Homo sapiens: one gene and its partners. The protein of the gene in region 1 binds, or shares a complex with, the protein of each later gene. Each region holds a gene or a part of one and is shown in the gene's direction. Other genes may lie near its edges.

What was found.
Region 2: PRPF3 (region 1) and PRPF6 share a complex: the UniProt entries of both Homo sapiens proteins name them as parts of the U4/U6-U5 tri-snRNP complex.
Region 3: PRPF3 (region 1) and LSM8 share a complex: the UniProt entries of both Homo sapiens proteins name them as parts of the precatalytic spliceosome.

Annotation. Positions count from the first base shown.
Region 1 is NC_000001.11:150,345,409-150,353,099, forward strand, and holds part of PRPF3 (U4/U6 small nuclear ribonucleoprotein Prp3), read left to right. Parts: intron 1-609; coding exon 610-728; intron 729-999; coding exon 1,000-1,083; exon of another isoform or gene 1,084-1,093; intron 1,094-3,748; coding exon 3,749-3,810; intron 3,811-7,424; coding exon 7,425-7,571; 3' UTR 7,572-7,691. UniProt on the Homo sapiens protein: Plays a role in pre-mRNA splicing as component of the U4/U6-U5 tri-snRNP complex that is involved in spliceosome assembly, and as component of the precatalytic spliceosome (spliceosome B complex).
Region 2 is NC_000020.11:63,983,643-63,991,333, forward strand, and holds part of PRPF6 (pre-mRNA-processing factor 6), read left to right. Parts: intron 1-1,264; coding exon 1,265-1,383; intron 1,384-7,691. UniProt on the Homo sapiens protein: Involved in pre-mRNA splicing as component of the U4/U6-U5 tri-snRNP complex, one of the building blocks of the spliceosome.
Region 3 is NC_000007.14:118,200,833-118,204,895, forward strand, and holds the end of LSM8 (LSM8 homolog, U6 small nuclear RNA associated), read left to right. Parts: 3' UTR 1-3,203; downstream 3,204-4,063. UniProt on the Homo sapiens protein: Plays a role in pre-mRNA splicing as component of the U4/U6-U5 tri-snRNP complex that is involved in spliceosome assembly, and as component of the precatalytic spliceosome (spliceosome B complex).

The DNA of each region.
Region 1 (7,691 bases):
GGCGCGATCTCAGCGCACTGCAACCTCTGCCTCCCAAGTTCAAGCAATTCTCCTGCCTCAGCCTCCTGAGTAGCTAGGATTACAGGCACGCACCCCCACGCCCGGCTAATTTTTGTATTTTTAGTAGAGATGGGGTTTCACCATGTTGGCCAGGCTGGTCTTAAACTCCTGACCTCGTGATCTGCCCACTTTGGCCTCCCAAAGTGCTGGGATTACAGGCATGAGCCACCGCACCCAGCCAAGTAATCCTATATTATAAGAGTCTAAGGGTCTAGAGGACAAAAAGTCTGTAGGTCTTTACATTGTCAAGAACAATGAGATTGTAAGTATTTTTGGATGATAGTAAATACCTCTCCCTGACTCTTAGAGTAAACTTTGGTTAGTAATGTAATGGTTAATGTAAAGTGCTAGACTTTGAAGAAATGTAAGAGTGTGGAAATATTTCTAGACTCATCAACTCTACCTTTTAAGCATTCATCTATTTGTTTACTCCAGAGGCCTTTGTTTATAGAGAGGAAACCATTTTGGATTCATCTTTTTACTTGCCACTCCATTCAGGCAGCTGCTGATGCTAAAATGGAAGACATAACTAAACTTTCCCTTCTCCAGAGTTCGAAATTTGAGCAACCCAGCCAAGAAGTTCAAGATTGAAGCCAATGCTGGGCAACTGTACCTGACAGGGGTGGTGGTACTGCACAAGGATGTCAACGTGGTAGTAGTGGAAGGGGGTGAGTCTGAAAAACTTGAGGGAGACTGTCCCCAGACAACCCTAGGCTTAGAGTGATTAGCATTGTGGGGAGAAAGGAGAAAAAGATCGTATTTTAGTGCCATACCTGATATAATATGCTAGGTCTCTGCTTCTGTGTTTTTTGGAGTAGAAGGCCCTAAGATGTGGTTCCTGAGATTGCTTCAACTACCACATTAATGTCTGAGCTCAGAGGTTCTTTCTACCCCATCATCTTCCACAGTTCTGGCAAAATTATTCTTCTCTGTTTCCAGGCCCCAAGGCCCAGAAGAAATTTAAGCGTCTTATGCTGCATCGGATAAAGTGGGATGAACAGACATCTAACACAAAGGGAGATGGTGAATGGGGGTTAGAGGGGATTAAGGGGGAGAGCTATGGGAGGTGGGGATGGTGCATCTGTCCGTTCATCTTATTTCCTCCCTGTGACACTCTTGATAACACTAGATAGTGTTCAGGAATTTTAGAAAGACCCGTTTAGACTTTGAGCCTCCTAGACATTCATACAATATTTACTACATGATTATATGCATGAATGGTAAAGCTATTTTTTTGCCTATCATTTAAGGCTTTTCTACCAGCTGGTTTCTGTGTCTGTCCTGGATCTGAGTACCGGTTACATGAATTTATTCAGTATTTGAAAATTCAGCAAGCAGCTAGGCATGGTGGCTCATGCCTGTAATCCTAGCACTTTGGGAGGCTGAGGCGGGCAGATTGCCTGAGGCCAGGAGTTCGAGACCAGCCTGGGCAAACAACGTGGTGAAACCCCATATCTACAAAAAGTACAAAAATTAGCTGGATGTGGTGGCACACACCTGTATTCCCAGCTACTCAGGAAGCTGAGGTGGGAGGATCACTTGAGCTTGGGGAGGTCGAGGCTGCAGTAAGCTGTGATCGTGCCACTGCAATCCAGCCTGGGTGACAGAATGAGACCCTGTCTCAAAAAAAAGAAAAAGCAAATCTAGTAAGCTATACATTCATGTGTACAGTGTCTATATTATATTATTATTTGATTTTTTTTTTTTTAAGGATTGAAGCCAAAAAGATCTTCAGGTCAAAAAAGCTCTGCTTTGATCAAACTATTTCTTTTGTCTGATATATATATATACACACATACACATACATACACACACACACACATACATACACACATGTACACACACATACACATACACACAATACACACACATACATGTACATGTACATACTCACACATATGCTCTTCAACTTAATGATGGGGTTAGTTCCAATAAACCTGAGATAAATTGAAAATATTGTTAAGTCAAAAATGCATTTAAGGCCAGGCACGGTGGCTCACACTTATAATCTGAGCACTTTGGGAGGCCGAGGCGAGCAGATCATTTGAGGTCAGGAGTTCGTAACAGCCTGGCCAACATGGTGAAACCCCGTCTCTACTGAAAACACAAAAATTCGGGGCGTGGTGGTGGACCTCTGTAATCCCAGCTACTCGGGAGGCTGAGGCAGGAGAATCGCTTGAACCTGGCAGGCGGAGGTTGCAGTAAGCTGTGATCGCACCACTGCACTGCAGCCTAAGCGACAGAGCAAGACTCCATCTCAAAAAAAAAAAAATGCATTTAATACATCTGACCTACAGGACATCATAACAGCCTAGCCTTCCTTATACTTTCTCAGAATACTTAGATTAGCCTACAGTTGGGCAAAATCATCTAACACAAAGCCTATTTTTATCTCATGTAAGAGTATTTTACTGCATATTGCTAGCCCAGGAAAATCTCAAAATTTAAAATTTGAAGTACATTTTCTACTAAATATTTATCACTTTCACACTATACTCAAGGCAAAAAATTGTAAGTCAAGGACTGTCTGTCTATATTTGAAGGCCAGACATTCTTCTGGCCATCATACTCCCATTAGTGTTCATTCTTCTCATCTTTGAACACCTGGATTAGCATTTAAAATCTGCAGAGAGGCCTGGTGTGATGGCTTATGCCTGTAATCCCAGCACTTTGGGAGGCCGAGGCGGGTGGATCACCTGAGGTCAGGAGTTTGAGACCAGCCTGACATGGTGAAACCCCGTCTCTACTAAAAAATACAAAAATGAGCTGGGCGTGGCAGCGTGCGCCTGTAATCCCAGCTACTCGGGAGGCCTAGGCAGGAGAATCACTTGAACCCAGGAAGCGGTTGCAGTGAGCTGAGATCATACCACTTCACTCCAGCCTGAGTGACAGAGCAAGACTCCGTCTCAAAAAAATAAAAATATAAATAAAATCTGCAGAGAGTTCATCTTAAGATACCTGAGAATAAAAAATATTTTGTTCTACACGTGCATTTTTTTTTTTTTTTTTTTGAGATGGAGTCTTTGCTCTTTTGCCCAGGCTGGAGTGCAGTGGCACCATCTTGGCTCACTGCAGCCTCCGCCTCCCAGGTTCAAGTGATTCTCCTGCCTCGGCCTCCTGATAAGCTCGGATTACAGGCACCTGCCACCACACCTGGCTAATTTTTGTATTTTTAGTAGAGATGAGGTTTCGCCATGTTGGCTAGGCTGGTCTCAAACTCTTGACCTCAGGTGATCCACTCACCTCAGCCTCCCAAAGCGCTAGGATTACAGGCGTGAGCCACCACGCTGGCCGATAATTTTGATTTGGTATATCTGCCCTCCTCCTCCATTGGGTGAAAGTTTTTTGAGAGTAATATATGATGTTGACATATGAAGCCTGCCTCCCAAAGTGCCTAGGACAAGTTTTTATTCTTGACTGCTTGTCTTTTATTTCCTTATTCCCAGTACCTGGTGGAGCTCTTGATTCATAACAAGTGCTATGTAAATGCTAATTGTATCAATTAATATTACTGCCTACTTGGAGCTTCAAGTCTAATTTGGGGAAAATAAAGAGCAACAGAAAAGAGAACACTTGGTCCAACACATAAAAAGGGTGATAATATTTTAGAGAGTTTGGGTAGACTTGAATATTATTTGTTTAGAACCTGAATCTCAAGTCTAAGTCTGTAACAAGATTTCTCTTCCAGATGATGAGGAGTCTGATGAGGAAGCTGTGAAGAAAACCAACAAATGTGTACTAGTCTGGGAGGTAGGTGATCCTTTGTAAAACATTGTAAAACTTTAGCCAACTCCTGAATATTTATACTATTTGAGTGGAGCAATGGAATGTAAGATGTAATCAGTGAATAATGTTTTAAATAATTTATGTTTCTTTTTGGAATCCATTTTTAAATGGTTGGCAGTAAATTCTTCCTGATCATCTGTTTAATTAAATTCGTGAGTATTTAGTATATGCTATCTGGGGAAGTGCGTGGACAGTGCTGCTGGTAGCAGGAATACAAATTCTCTACCGAAAATTATTTATTTCACAGTCATGAATATGAGACTTGGAAACGGGAATGAATTGTTGTTGGATTTACCTTTGGATATAGTGAAGGAAGTACTAGACTTAAGAATATAAAGTTAGGAGGCTGGGCAGTGCTGCTTATTAGCTGTGCAATCTGGGCAAGACACTTAATGTCAAATTCTGTTGCCTTAGCTATTGTTCTCTATATTGTCAAGTTTTTGAGAATGAAATTAGATAATTATGTGATAGTGCTTCATAAAATGTGACTGAATCACTCTTCAAGTGGAATATTTTTTATGGTTATCTAGTTCTTTAACCCCTGAAGCCTTCTTAGAGAACCAGTATTAAAACCAGTATTAATGTTTTCATGTTTGCTTTTAGGTATAGTACATGTATATCTTTTTTTGGGGGCGGGGGGGCGGGGGGCGGTATGGAGTTTCGCTCTTGTTGCTCTTGTTGCCCAGGCTGGAGTGCGATGGCGTGATCTCGGCTCACCGCAACCTCTACCTCCCAGGTTCAAACGATTCTCCTGCCTCAGCCTCCCAAGTAGCTGGGATTACAGGTGCACGCCACCATGCCCGACTAATTTTTGTATTTATAGTAGAGACAGGGTTTCTCCATGTTGGTCAGGCTGGTCTTGAACTCCCAACCTCAGGTGATCCGCCTGCCTCGGCCTCCCAAAGTGCTGGGATTACAGGCATGAGCCACTGTGCCCAGCCCCTCCATTTCTTTTTTTTTTTTTTTGAGAGAGTTTTGCCCTTGTTACCCAGGCTGGAGTGCAATGGTGCAATCTCAGCTCACCGCAACCACCGCCTCCTGGGTTCAAGTGATTCTCCTGCCTCGGCCTCCCGAGTAGCTGGAATTACAGGCATGAGCCACCACGCCTGGCTAATTTTGTATTTTTAGTAGAGACGGGGTTTCGCCATATTGGTCAAGCTGGTCTCGAACTCCTGACCTGAGGTCCGACTGCCTTGGCCTCCCAAAGTGCTGGGATTACAGGCATGAGTCACTGCGCCCGGCCATATATCTTCTATTTTTAAAATGTGCTTATTTCTAGTATATGTGCTGCTGAAGCGAGCAGTAAAATGTGCTTATTTCTATTAATGAATTCTTTATTATAAAAGTGGTACATTATTACAAAAGTAGTAAATGTTTATTAAGATTAGAAACAAATTCTAATTATACAGAAGAGTACTTACTGAGACCCAGCACAGTGGCTCACGCCTATAATCCCAGCACTTTGGGAGGATGAGGTGGTTGGATCACTTGAGCTCAGGAGTTCAAGACCAGCCTGGGCAATATGGCGAAACCCCGTCTCTACAAAAAATACAAAAATTAGCCTGGCCTGGTGGCGTCTGCCTGTAGTCCCAGCTACTTGAGAGGCTGAGGTGGGAAGATTGCTTCAGCTTTGGAGTTTGAAGCTGCAGTGAGCTGTGACTATGCCACTGCACTCCAGCCTGGGCACCAGAGTGAAACCCTGTCTTAAAAAAAAAAAAGAAAAAGTCTCAGGCCAGGTGCAGTGGCTCATGCCTATACTCCCAACACTTTGGGAGGCTGAGGTGGGCGGATTACGAGGTCAGGAATTCGAGACTAACCTGGCCAACATGGTGAAACCCAGTCTCTACTAAAAATACAAAAATTAGTGGGGCGTGGTGGCCAGTGCCTATAATCCCAGCTACTTGGGAGGCTGAGGCAGGAGAATCGCTTGAATCTGGGAAGCGGAGGTTGCAGTGAGCCGAGATCGCACCATTGCACTCCAGCCTGGGTGACAGTGCGAGACTGTGTCTCAAAACAAAAGTCTCTTCCTATTCGCTGATCTCTTCAGACCAGTCTTTATAGGTAATTGCTATTAATAGTTTTTCTTCTGAAGGAGCAATCAAAAAATAAAAATTAAAAAAAAAGGTTTTCATGTATCCTGCCTTATCCCAGATTCTTCAATTTATGCATACAAATTAGATGATAATAACCATAGTATTTGTTCTCTGTTTTATAAGTTCCCACCTGCATATTTGTTATCTTTTTTTAATCAACTTTTTTTTTTAGAGATAGGGTCTTGCTCTATTGCTCAGGCTGGTGTGCAGTGGCGCAGTCATAGCTCGCTACAGCCTTGAACTCCTAGGGACAAGCAATCCTCCAGTCTCAGCTTCTCAAGTATCTGAGACCTCAGGTCCACACCACTGTGCCTGGCTAATTTTTTTTTTTTTTTTTTTTTTTTTTAGAAATGGATCTCACTATGTTGCCTAGGCTTGTCTTGAACTCTTAGCCTTGAGTGATCCTCCCACCTCAGCCTCCCAAAGTGCTGGGATTATAGGCATGAGCTACTGTGCCCAGCCCTACCTTCACATATCTCAGCACCCTCATCTTTCAATTTTCTTCTATTTATCTCTGAAGAGTACTTACTGAAAAAGTCCCGGCTTCTTAGAGAACCAGTATTAATGTTGTAGGAATTTAGTTTTCAGGAATTGTCTCTCATGTTCAGAAATAAGCCAAGTTCTGCTCCAGCCTCCTTATTGGAGTCTACTCCCTGAACGCCTCTTGAGGTATTGCTTTATGACTGCCATTGCTGCTGGTAACTTTGGCAAGAATGCCATTCTGCCCAGTACTGTCTTTTTCTGTTGTAATTCTCTGCTGGTACCTGCTCTTCTTCTGTTCCCCGCCCCCAGTTGTTCTTTGTTGCTGGGCCCCAAAGCCTCCTGCTTATATAAATAGTTTCTGGGGCCTTTTTGAAGGCTCAGATTTAGTCCTTAAGGCCTGGTAGGAGATAAGTTTATCTCATTCCACCTTCCATAGTTCTTCCTGACTTGCTGTTCCACCCAGGCACCAGAGCAAATAATTCCTCACTTCATTTCAAAAAACTAAAAGCCTTATGCATATGAATTCGTAAAATCTCATACAAATATCCAAGGAGGCCGGGCGCGGTGGCTCACGCCTATAATCCCAGCACTTTGGGAGGCTGAGGCGGGAGGATCACGAGGTCAGGAGATCGAGACCATCCTGGCTAACACGGTGAAACCCCGTCTCTACTAGAAATACAAAAAATCAGCTGGGCGTGGTAGCGGGCGCCTGTAGTCCCAGCTACTCCAGAGGCTGAGGCAGGAGAATGGTGTGAACCCGGGAGGCGGAGCTTGCAGTGAGCCGAGATCGTGCCACTGCACTCCAGCCTGGGCGACAGAGCGAGACTCTGTCTCAGAAAAACACAAATATCCAAGGAAATGGAGGTCACAATTTTTTTTTAACCATAAAATCACGTTCAGCTGGGCACATGTCTCACAAATGTTACTAGGTCTTCTTATAAAAGAATATTATCTGATTTAAATAAGAAATTGAAGTGTTTTTATTATATATCTCTTTTCTAGGGTACAGCCAAAGACCGGAGCTTTGGAGAGATGAAGTTTAAACAGTGTCCTACAGAGAACATGGCTCGTGAGCATTTCAAAAAGCATGGGGCTGAACACTACTGGGACCTTGCGCTGAGTGAATCTGTGTTAGAGTCCACTGATTGAGACTACTGCAAGCCCTTGCCTCTCCTCCCTTGCCTTTGTCTCTTCAGTCCTCTCACTTATTCTATTTCCCAACCCCCTCCCACTTGTTTGTGTGATCTCAGAACTGTGCCAAGCAGACAC
Region 2 (7,691 bases), on another chromosome or scaffold:
TTGGCCAGTCTTTTTTTTTTTTTTTTTTTGAGACGGACTTTCGCTCTTGTTGGCCAGGCTGGAGTGCAGTGGTGTGATCTCAGCTCACTGTGACCTCTGCCTCCCCATTTCAAGCGATTCTCCTGCCTCAGTCTCCAAGTAACTGGGATTACAGGCATGCGCCACCATGCCTGGCTAATTTTGTATTTTTAGTAGAGACAGGGTTTCTCCATGTTGGTCAGGCTGGTCTCGAACTCCTGACTTCAGGTTGTCCGCACGCTTCGGCTTCCCAAAGTGTTGGGATTACAGGCGTGAGCCACTGCGCCTGGCTGCCAGTCTTTAATGATAAAAACTTAAAGTGGAATTGGTGATAGTATTTGCTTTTTTTAGCTTTAGTGATTGCCCTCTAAACAGACATCTAAAGAAAAACTTCAGCTGACTGAATACCGATTAACTGTCTTCTAACAGATGACATTTTTCCTCTGAGGAAAATTTTTAAAAATAATTTTAGTTTTGAGGCCAGGTGCGGTAGCTCACACCTATAATCCTGGCACTTTTGGAGGCCGAGGTGGGCGGATCATGAGGCCAGGATATCGAGACCATCCTGTTTAACATGGTGAAACCCCGTCTCTACTAAAACTACACAAAAATTAGCCGGGCATGGTGGCATGTGCCTGTAGTCCCAGCTACTCGGGAGGCTGAGGCAGAAGAATGCTGTGAACCCGGGAGGCGGAGGTTGCGGTGAGCCAAGATTGCGCCACTGCACTCCAGCCTTGGCGAGAGTGCGAGACTCTGTCTCAGAAAAAAAAAAAAAATTAGTTTTGAAATAATTTTAAATTTGCAGGAATTTGCAAAAATAGTGCCCCCCCAAAAAAAAGTTTCTGCATGTCTTTCACCAAGCTTCTCCCGATGTTACATGACCTTAGTGCAGTTATTGAAACGAAGGAGTTAACATTGACACAGTACTATTAACTAATTTGTCAGTCGTATTTGCATTTCATGTTTTTCCATGAATGTCCGCTTTCTGGCTTAGGCTTAGTCCAGGATCCCCCATTGCATTTCGTCATGTCTCCTTGGTCCCTTCCAATTGGGGGTCTCCTCTGTCTTCCATGCCCTTGACGCTTGAAGAGTAGTCACCAGTTATATGGTAGACTGTCCCTTGATTTGGCTTCGTTGGCTGAAGAAAATAATTTAGCAAGTATTTCACAAGTAGAGATCTCCGTTTCGCTGGTGGGGATGGTGTTGAAGGAAAAGCTGACCTCTACACGTGTTGTTTGCTTCTCAGTTTAATGGCTATGCTGGGAGCCTCTTCTCAAGTGGACCCTACGAGAAAGATGATGAGGAAGCAGATGCTATCTATGCAGCCCTGGATAAAAGGATGGATGAAAGAAGAAAAGAAAGACGGTAAAAGAAATTGTTGCCTTTCACAATATTTATCCAAGTTTAAAAAAAAGTTTTGTGGCCAGGCGCAGTGGCTCACGTGTGTAATCCTAGCACTTTGAGAGGCTGAGGTAGGACGATAGCTAGAGCCCAGGGGTTTGAGACCAGTGTGGGCAACGTAGGGAGACTTAATCTCTACAAATAATTTAAAAATTAGCCAGATGGTACACACCTGTAGTCCCAGCTACTTGGGTGGCTGAGGTGGAAGGACCGTTTAAGCCCAGGAGGTAGAAACTGCAGTGAGCCATGATCATTCCAGCCTGGTTGGCATAGTGAGACCCTGTCTCAAAAAAAAAAAAAAGTTTTGTTTTGAATTGTTTTATATTTGGAGAAAAGTTGCAATAGAGTATGTGTGTCTGCTTAGCTTTTAGGCCACCTGAGGGTCTTGGTCTGTCGTAGCCATGCCTGGATAAGCACTGGGCTGTTACAGAACAGCCTTAGGGCCTGGGGGCTGCAGTGGAGAGCTTAAGAACTCTTAAGTTTTTCCAGAAATCAGCAGAATTTTGTGGATTACTTTTACGATACATCAGGGTTACCATCTTTGAAATGAAAAGGGCCTACTGACTTGATTATTATATGTTGAGTAATTTGCAAATGAATTAAAGATGTTAAATGACACATACAAGCTACCAAGATTGAACCATGAAGAAATCCCAAACCTGAACAGACCAATAAAAGGTAATGAGATCAAAGCTGTAACAGAAAGTGTCCTAGCAGAGAACATCTCAGGATCTGATTGCTTCATTGCTGAATTTTACCAAATATTTGAAGAAGAACTAATACCAATTCTACTCAGACTATTCTGAAAAATAGAGGAGGGAATACTTCCAAACTTATTCTACAGAACCAGTATTACCCTGATACCAAAACCAGACAAAGACACACTGAAAAAAGAAAATGTTAGGTCAGTATCCCTGATGAACACTGATGCAGAAATCAGCAGAATACTAGCAAACCATATTCAACAACACATTAGAAAGATGGTTCATCGGCTGGGCGCAGTGGATCACGCCTGTAATTCTAGCACTTTGGGAGGCCGAGGTGGGCGGATGATGGGTCATCTGAGGTCAGGAGTTCAAGACCAGTCTGGCCAACCTAGTGAAACCCAGTCTCTACTAAAAATACAAAAATTAGCCGGGCATGGTGGGTGGTGTACGCCTATAATCCCAGCTACTTGGGAGGCTGAGGCAAGAGAATCGCTTGAACTCGGGAGGTGGAGGTTGCAGTGAGCCGAGGTCACAACACTGCACTCTAGCCTGGGAGACAAGAGCAAGACTCCATCTCAAAAAAAAAAAAAAAAAAAGATCGTTCATCATGACCAAGTGGCATTTTGCCCAGGGGATACAAGTGCAAGGGTGGTTCAACATATGCAAATTAATCAGTGTTATACATCATATCAACAGAATGAAGGACAAAAACCATATGATCTTTTTTTTTTTTTTTTTGAGACGGAGTCTCGCTCTGTTGCCCAGGCTGGAGTGCAGTGGCGCAATCTCAGCTCACTGCAACCTCCACCTCCTGGGTTCAAGTGATTCTCCTGCCTCAGCCTCCTGAGTAGCTGGGACTACAGTTGCCCGCCACCACGCCTGGCTAATTTTTTGTATTTTTAGTAGAGACGGGATTTCACTGTGTTAGCCAGGATGGTCTTGATCTCCTGACCTCATGATCCACCTGCCTCGGCCTCCCAAAGTGCTGGGATTACAGGCGTGAGCCACTGCGCCCGGCCTAATCATTTTAATTGATTCTGAAAATGCATTTGATAAGATTCAACATTCCTTGATGATAAAAACTCTCAAAAAACTGCATATAGAAGAAACATACCTCAGGCTGGGTGTGGTGGCTCACGTCTGTAATCCCAGCACTTTGGGAGGCTGAGGCGGGAGGACTGCTTGATCTCAGGAGTTTGAGACCAGCCTAGGCAAGAGGGTAATACCTTTTCTTTACAAAAAAATACAAAAATTAGCCAGGCTTCGTGGCACACACCTGTAGTCCTAGCTACTCAGGAGGCTGAGATGGGAGAATTACTTGAGCCCAGGAGGCAGAGGTTGCAGTGAGCTGAGATCATACCACCACACTTCAGCCTGGGCCACAGAGCGAGACCCTGTCTCAAAAAAAAAAAAAAAAAAAAGGGGGGGGGAGCATAACACAATAAAAGCTATATACAGCTGGATGGGGTGGTTCACGCCTGTAATCACAGCCCTTTGGGAGGCCCAGGCAGGCAGATCATTTGAGGTCAGGAGTTTGAGACCATCCTGACCAACATGGTAAAACCCTGTCTCTACTAAAAATCCAAAGATTAGTTGGGTGTGGTGGCTCAGGCCTATAATTTCAGCTACTCAGGAGGTGGAGGTTACAGTGAGCTGAGATTGTGCCACTGCACTCCAGCCTGGGCAACACAATGAGACTGTGTCGCAAAGAAAAAAAAAAGCCACATATGGTAGGCCCACAGCTCGTATCATACTGAATGGGGAAAAACTGGAACGCAACAAGGATGCCCACTTTCACCACTGTGATTCAACATTGTACTGGAAGTCCTAGCTAGAGCAGTCGGACCAGAGAAATAAATAAAAGGGCATCCAGATTGGAAAAGAAGAAGTTAAATTATCCTTGTTTGCAGATGATATGATCTTATATTTAGAAAACCCTAAAGACTCTACCAAAACACTATTGGAACTGACAAATTGATTAAAGTTGCAGGCTATGCCCCCAGGTGTGGTGGCTCACACCTGTAATCCCAGCACTTTGGGAGGCTGAGGGTGGGTGGATCACCTGAGGTCAGGAGTTTGAGACCAGCCTGGCCAACAAAGAGAAACCCTGTCACTATTAAGAATACAAAAATGGCCGGGCACGGTGGCTCACGCCTGTAATCCCAGCACTTTGGGAGGCCGAGGCAGGTGGATGACTGGAGGTCAGGAGTTCGAGACCAGCCTGACCAACGTGGTGAAACCCTGTCTCTACTAAAAAAATTACAAAAGTTGCCAGGCGCTGGGACTCACGCCTGTAATCCCAGCACCTTGGGAGAGTGAGGTGGGTGGATCACTTGAGGTCAGGAGTTTGAGACCAGGCTGACCAACATAGTGAAACCCTGTCTCTACTAAAAATACAAAAATTAGCTGGGTGTAGTGGCACACGTCTGTAATCCCAGCTACTCAGGAGGCTGAGGCAAGAGAATTGCTTGAACCTAGGAGGCAAATGTTGTAGTGAGCTGAGATTGCACCACTGCACTCCAGCCTGAGTGACGGGGCAAGACTCTGTCTCAAAAAAAAAAAAAACCAAAAAACAAAAATTAGCCGGGTGTGGGGGTGCACGCCTGTAGTCCCAGCTAGTTGGGAGGCTGAGGCAGGAGAATCGCTTGAACCCAGGAGGTCGAGGTTGCAGTGAGCTGAGATTGCACCACTGCACTCCAGCCTGGGTAACAGAGTGAGACTCCATCTTAAAATAAAAGAAAATATCCATACTACCCAAAGTAATTTACAGATTCAATGCAATCCGTATCAAAATACTGGGGACATTATTAACAGATAGTGAAAAAATAGCCAGGTGCAGTGGCTCATGCCTGTAATCCCAACACTTTGGGAGGCTGAGGCAGGTGGATCACTTGAGGTCAGCAGTTCGAGACCAGCCTGGCTAAACCCCATCTCTACTAAAAATACAAAAATTAGTTGGGCATGGTGACAGGTGCCTGTAATCCCAGCTACTTGGGAGGCTGAGGCAGGAGAATCACTTGAACCTGGAAGGCAGAGGTTGCAGTCAGCTGAGATCGTGCCATTGCACTCCGGCCTGGGCAACAGAGTGAGACTCCGTCTCAAAAAAAAAAAAAGAAAAAGAAAAAATAATTCTAAAATGTACATGGAGCCAAAAAAGACCCAGAATAGGCAAAGCTATCCTGAGCAAAAGGAACAAAACTGGGGGAACACTTGACTTCAAATTATACTACAGAGCTGTAGTAACAAAAACAGCATAGTACTGGCAGAAAAACAGACACATAGACCAATGGAACAGAATGGACCCAGAAACAAATAGGTACCTCTACAGTGAACTCATTCTTGACAAATGTACCAGGAATATTTATTGGGGAAAAGACAATCTCTTCAATAAACGGTGCTGGGAAAACTGGATATCTATATACAGAAGAATGAAACTAGACCCCTCTCTGTCACCACATACAAAAATCAAATTAAAAGACTTTAAGACCTCAAGCTGAAACTACTAGAAGAAAACATTGGAGAAACTCTACAGGACATTGGACTAGGCAAAGATTTCTTGAGTAATACCCCACAAGCACAGGCAACGAACGGAAGCCAGGTGTGGTGGCTCGCTCCCGTGAGCCAAGAGTGCGCTACTGCACTCCAGCCTGGGCCACAGAGACTGTCTCAAAAAGGAAAAAAATAAAAAGTTCTCATTATAGAATATTAGGAAAATAAGAGTAAGTATGGGTAAAAGCATAACATTTATTCATAAGTCTAGAAAGTAACAGTTAACATTTTGGCTCATTTCCTCTTTCTGTTGCTTTTTTTTATCTTGGCTCACTGCAACCTCTGCCTCCCGGGTTCAAGCAATTCTCCTGCCTCAGCCTCCCAAGTAGCTGGGATTACAGGTGCCTGCCACCACGCCTGGCTAGTTTTTGTATTTTAGTAGAGACGGGGTTTCACCATGTTGGCCAGGATGGTCTCAAACTCCTGGCCTTGTGCTCCATCCACCTCGGCCTCCCAAAGTGCTGGGATTACAGACGTGAGCCACTGCGCCCAGCTCTGTTGCTTTTTATACATGTAATCATAACTTCCTGTGATGTATGTAGAATGTTTTATTTTTTGAAGATAATTTTAGAATAGTAAAATATAGTTCTTCTGGAATTTTATTTATTTTTTATTTTTTTGAGTCTCCCAGGCTCAAGTGATTCTTCTGCCTCAGCCTCCCAAGTAGCCGGGATTATAGGCACGCGCCACCACACCTGGCTAATTTTTGTGTTTTTAGTAGAGACAGGGTTTTACCATGTTGGCCAGGCCGGTCTTGAACTCCTGACCCCAAGTGATCCACCCGCCTCAGCCTCCCAAAGTGTTGGAATTACAGGTATGAGCCACCGTGCCCAGTCTTGCCACACACTTTAAACAACCAGATCTTACGTGATGTAAACTTGCTGCCTCGAGGACAGCACCAGGCCATCAGGGGTCTGCCCTCAAGACTCAAGTGGCCTCCCACCAGGCCCCACCTCAAACATTGGGAATTATAATTCAGCATGAGATTTCATGGGGACACAGATGTAAACCATATCCTTTGGCCTCCCAGAGTGCTGGGATTACAGACATAAGTCAATGTGCCTGGCCTGGACATCTTTTTAGAAGCTCGTTATTAAATCATTGTGCATAAATTTTATACCTATAGTAATTAAACGTGAATGGCATTGCATTTCACTTTTTTTTTTTTTTGGATACAGGATCTTACTCTGTCACCCAGGGTGGAGCGCGGTGGCTTGATTATAGCTCCCTGTAACCTTCAATTCCTGGCTCAAGCGATTCTCCTGCTTCAGCCTCCCAGGTAGCTGGGATTACAAGCACGTGCTACCACACCCAGCTAATTTTTCTTTTTTCTTTTTTTTTTTTTGAGATGGAGTCTCACTCTATTGCCCAGGCTGGAGTGCAATGGCGCAACCTCGGCTTACTGCAACCTCCGCCTCCAGGGTTCAAGTGATTCTCCTGCCTCAGCCTCCCAAGTGGCTGGGATTACAGGCATGCACCGCCACGCCCGGCTGATTTTTGTAGAGATGGGTATTTTTAGTAGAGACGGGGTTTCACCAATGTTAGCCAGGCTGGTCTTGAACTCCTGCCCTTGTGATCTGCCTGCCTTGGCCTCCCAAGGTGCTGGGATTACAGGCTTGAGCCACCACGCCAGGCTCACACCCAGCTAATTTTTGTCTATGTTGCCCAGGCTGGTCTTGAACTCCTGGCCTCAAGTGATCCACCTGCCTCCCCTAACCTTGGCCTCCCAAAGTGCTAGGATTACAGGCATGAGTTACTACACTCAGCCCTACATTTTAAAAATTGATTGGAACCTCCAGGGTTAATGCATTTTAAAAAACATCAGGCTGGGTGCAGTGGCTTACATGTGTAATCCTAGTACCTTGGGAGGCCAAGGCAGGAGGACCACTTGAGTCTAGGAGTTCGAGACCAGCCTGGGCAACATGGTGAAACCCTGTCTCTACAAAAACAAAATTAAAATTAGCCAGTTGCACATGCCCGTAGTTCCAGCTACATTCCCAAGGCTGAGGCAGGAGC
Region 3 (4,063 bases), on another chromosome or scaffold:
CTCCCATCCCAGTTTCTACTTGTTTCTTGTAAAAAAGGAGGTTTCTAAATCTTGACTGTTGATTGACAATTAATGGGCTAAATTTCCCATTAGCAAACACTTTTCACATATACACTAATATTAGTATCTAAATTATATTAAAATCTAATTTGGTAGCAATTGACTTGAAATTTGTGATACTTCAACTTGTGCTAGGTTGTAGTTTTGCTTGTATCACTCATAGTTACTAAAAATGCAAAAGGCAAATTTGAAATAACTATAAAAATAAACCTTTAATGAACTTTTTAATATGCAATACTCAATTGTAAATAACCATTATCTTTACTGAATCAGATGTTTCATTAACTGTTAGCAGTTATTTCGAGTTATTTATATATCACAGAATTTTGAACTAAAGATCATCTAGCTGAATTTCCTTTATATTAAAGAAGAGGAGAAAATCTTAATACTAAGTATGTGTGAGCCTGGAGCTGCCATGGAGCATGTAGAGAGAGTCTCCTAGTTGATACCAACTCAGGAAAGCAGAATCAAGCAATAAAGAGACATTTTGGGCCTGATGACATCATTTCAGCACCTGGATCCAGCGATGCCTAAAGATGTGACTCCTAGACTTTTCACTTACATGAGCCAAAACGGTTCCTTTGCATCAATAAATCGCTCTGTGATGCATTTTATAATGTACAACCAAGAATCTCAATATTTATTATTTTGCATTAAATATCAGTAAGTTTGATATAAAAAGCTCAGTAAAATTCATTAATTTGAGAATGTGTCTATATCATAGTAAAGTTTTAAACCTACATAATTTTCAATATTTATACCTTTTACTGCAAAAATAAAAATGAGTTTATCCTTGCCCTAAAGCTGTAAAATTAAACTCTGTACAATTCTAGTTATTTGAAATATAAAATAAAATTATTGGTCATTTCATGTATACATTTGTGGTAACACTTTAACTTTTTCCCTGTAAGGCCATCTTTTGTATGTTTCTGTTTCCATCAAGCAGGCTTTTAATGCAACTTTATCTTCTGGGTTTCCCTAGTCATAATTAAGGGTTTGGCCCTAGTTCACAAGTAATCTTCCAGCACAAATTTTATAAACAAATGCCCTGTGAATCTGCATGGCATAAATCAAGTCTCTAGATCCTGATCACTTCTATGTGAATTTGTAATATTCTGCTTTTGGACTTGTAAGACCAAGAGCAGACTCCCTAAACACAGAGGAGGCAGTAATTTAGGACAGCTTAAACATTCTGGCTGACTGCCTCATCAATGCTATTTAATAACAGAATTCTGGGGATGTCTTGAAATAGATACATTGGCAGTTTTTTTGTTTTTGTTTTTGCTTGTGTCACACATAATGCTGATGAAGAAACCATGAAGTGTCATATGAAAGGAAGTTACGATTATTATTGGTGAGTACATCAGTTAGAATGGTATTTGGCTATAAGCACTGGAAACTCTGACTGCCAGTGGCTTTAACAGGCAGGAGGAGTTCATTTATCTCGAGAGAAAAGAACAGAAAAGTGAAAAGCAAGGCAGTTCAGACTGGGGCACCTACTCAAAGAAGTGACCCAGTACCCAGGCCACTATTTTCTCTTTGCCATCCTTTTGTTCTAATAATTTGCCTGTCATCTCGTGACTCATATTTTCCATCTAATTAGAATAAAGAAAGATGAAATAGGAAAGTGAGATTATCATATGGGAAAAATAAATGCTTTCCCAACTATAACCAGCAGACTATACTGGCAAAATATACTGCTTGAATGCCATTGGCCAGATCTTTGTCATATGGTTACCCTAACTACAAGGGAGGCTAGGAAGGTGAGGGATTTTTTTCCTTTTATAGTGACATTTTGCCACTCCAAATAAAAAAAGGGTTGCTGTTAGGAAAAAGAGAAGAATGGGGATGGGGTGAACAACCAACAATGCTGCCATTGTGCTAGTATAGAAGCAAGTATCTCAGAGGCAGGTGAAAACAACTTCTATGCCCAAACAGAATTCTTTTTTATCTCTGATATAAAATGCAGAATATGAATTTTAATAAATTCCCCAGGTGAGTCATATGCACATTAAAGTTTGAGAAGCACTGATCTATACTGTCTTTCTACACACTTTTTTACCTTACTTTATCCTTCAGGATTCTGGCGTCAAGTCCCTCCCTATCAGTCTTTAAAAACTGTAGCCTTAAATCAGTAGGGATATAGAAGACATGAACAATACTTTCATCCATCTTGACCTAACTGCCATTTATAGAACGTTCTATCCCAAGACATCAGAATATATATTCTTTTTAAACATTTAATGAAAGGATTTAACTCCCAAACTCCAAAGCAAGATGTTCTAAGAAGACTCATTTAAAAAATTAATCTCAAAAAACAGATTTTAAATTGTACAGGAGAAATGCTTATATGAGAACAGAATTATGGGGCACTCTGAATACTAATTTAAGAAAGAAATATAAACCCCTTTTAAAACTCACATAATTTTCCCATTTCCCTTGAAGAAGATACTAATATTTCTGATATCATATAGGAGTAAAAATTGCGGGGAGGTCCTAATATCCAATATTAATAGAGCTGTGATTATTCAAGCTGTAGACTTAAATTTTTTAAATAGAGTAATGGTTGTTTAGTAGAGATTAATATCTAAATAAGGAAAATGAAGAAAGGGACTAAAAATCAAGTAAATAGGATAATTGAGTTTCAATGGGCAAGAATTTTTATATCATGATTTTACCACTCTGAATATCAAAGTCAGTGATGTCTCCAAAAGGCAAAGGGAAGTGTACCAATTTTTGGAGCACTATAAAAAGTGAAAAGTCATCTGCCAGATCTAACATGGTATACTCTAATGGAAAAATCATCAAGATTCTCTTCCTTTTTATGATTCTATAGTAACAGTTTAGTTGAGAAAATAAATCATAATTTGTGATTTCAAACATTTAATATGTGCACATGTATATTATAATATACTCATCCTTTATATTTATCATGCTTTTTTGAATAAATTTGCCACCTTATTGCATATGAAGAATATCTCCATATTCTTACAGCTGTTTTTCTTGGTTGCTTTCTAATTCCTTTCCTCCCTTATTGGTTACCTATGAATTGCTCAGTTCTAACAATGATTTGTAAATTTTAATACTATAGATATATTGCTGTTAATTATTACACCTAAAAATAAATTATTTTACAGAGGCTACTAAGAATGTCCATGTTTTTTTCTGAGATTCTTGCCATATTTTAAGGGTGATATGTAATTATGGGGATAACGGATGGTATGTAAAAATAGCAAGGACACACTTTTTTAAAAAAGAAAAGTTTACATTTGAAGGAAGCCCTGGACTTTGATGATTTAAGAAGAATTTTAATTATTGTCCTCAAGCAAGATTCAATTTTCTGGTTTGATGGGGCTATATTTTTCATTTACTACAGTAAAAAATAAAGCATATGAAACTATAAACAAGACACCTGCATGTGTATGCTTATCATTGCACGATTCACAGTAGCAAAGTCATAGAACCAACCTAAGTGTCCATGAGTGGTTGATTTGATAAAGGAAATATTTCATATATACATATACATATACACACACATACACACATATGTAACATTTTTGTATATATACACAATAACATTTACTGTTTACACATTGTATATAGTGTATATATAGAGTGTATATATAATGTGTGTGTATATATATACACACATTCCATGATATATAATATATAAAATATTTAAATATATATAATATATAATATTATATATATATATAATGGAATACTATGAAGCCATAAAAAAGAATTAAATCATGTCCTTTGCAGCAACATGGATGGAGCTACAGCCCATTATCCTAAGTGAACTAACTTGGAAAGAGAAAATCAACTATCACATTTTCTCACTTATCAGTGGGAGCTAAACAATGTGTACACATGGACACAAAAATGGAAATAATAGACACCTGGGACTACAATGGGGGGAGTATAAGAGGAGGCTCAGGGTTGAAAAATTACCTATTGGGTAATGTTCACTCTATGAGTGATGGGTACACTAGAAACCCCA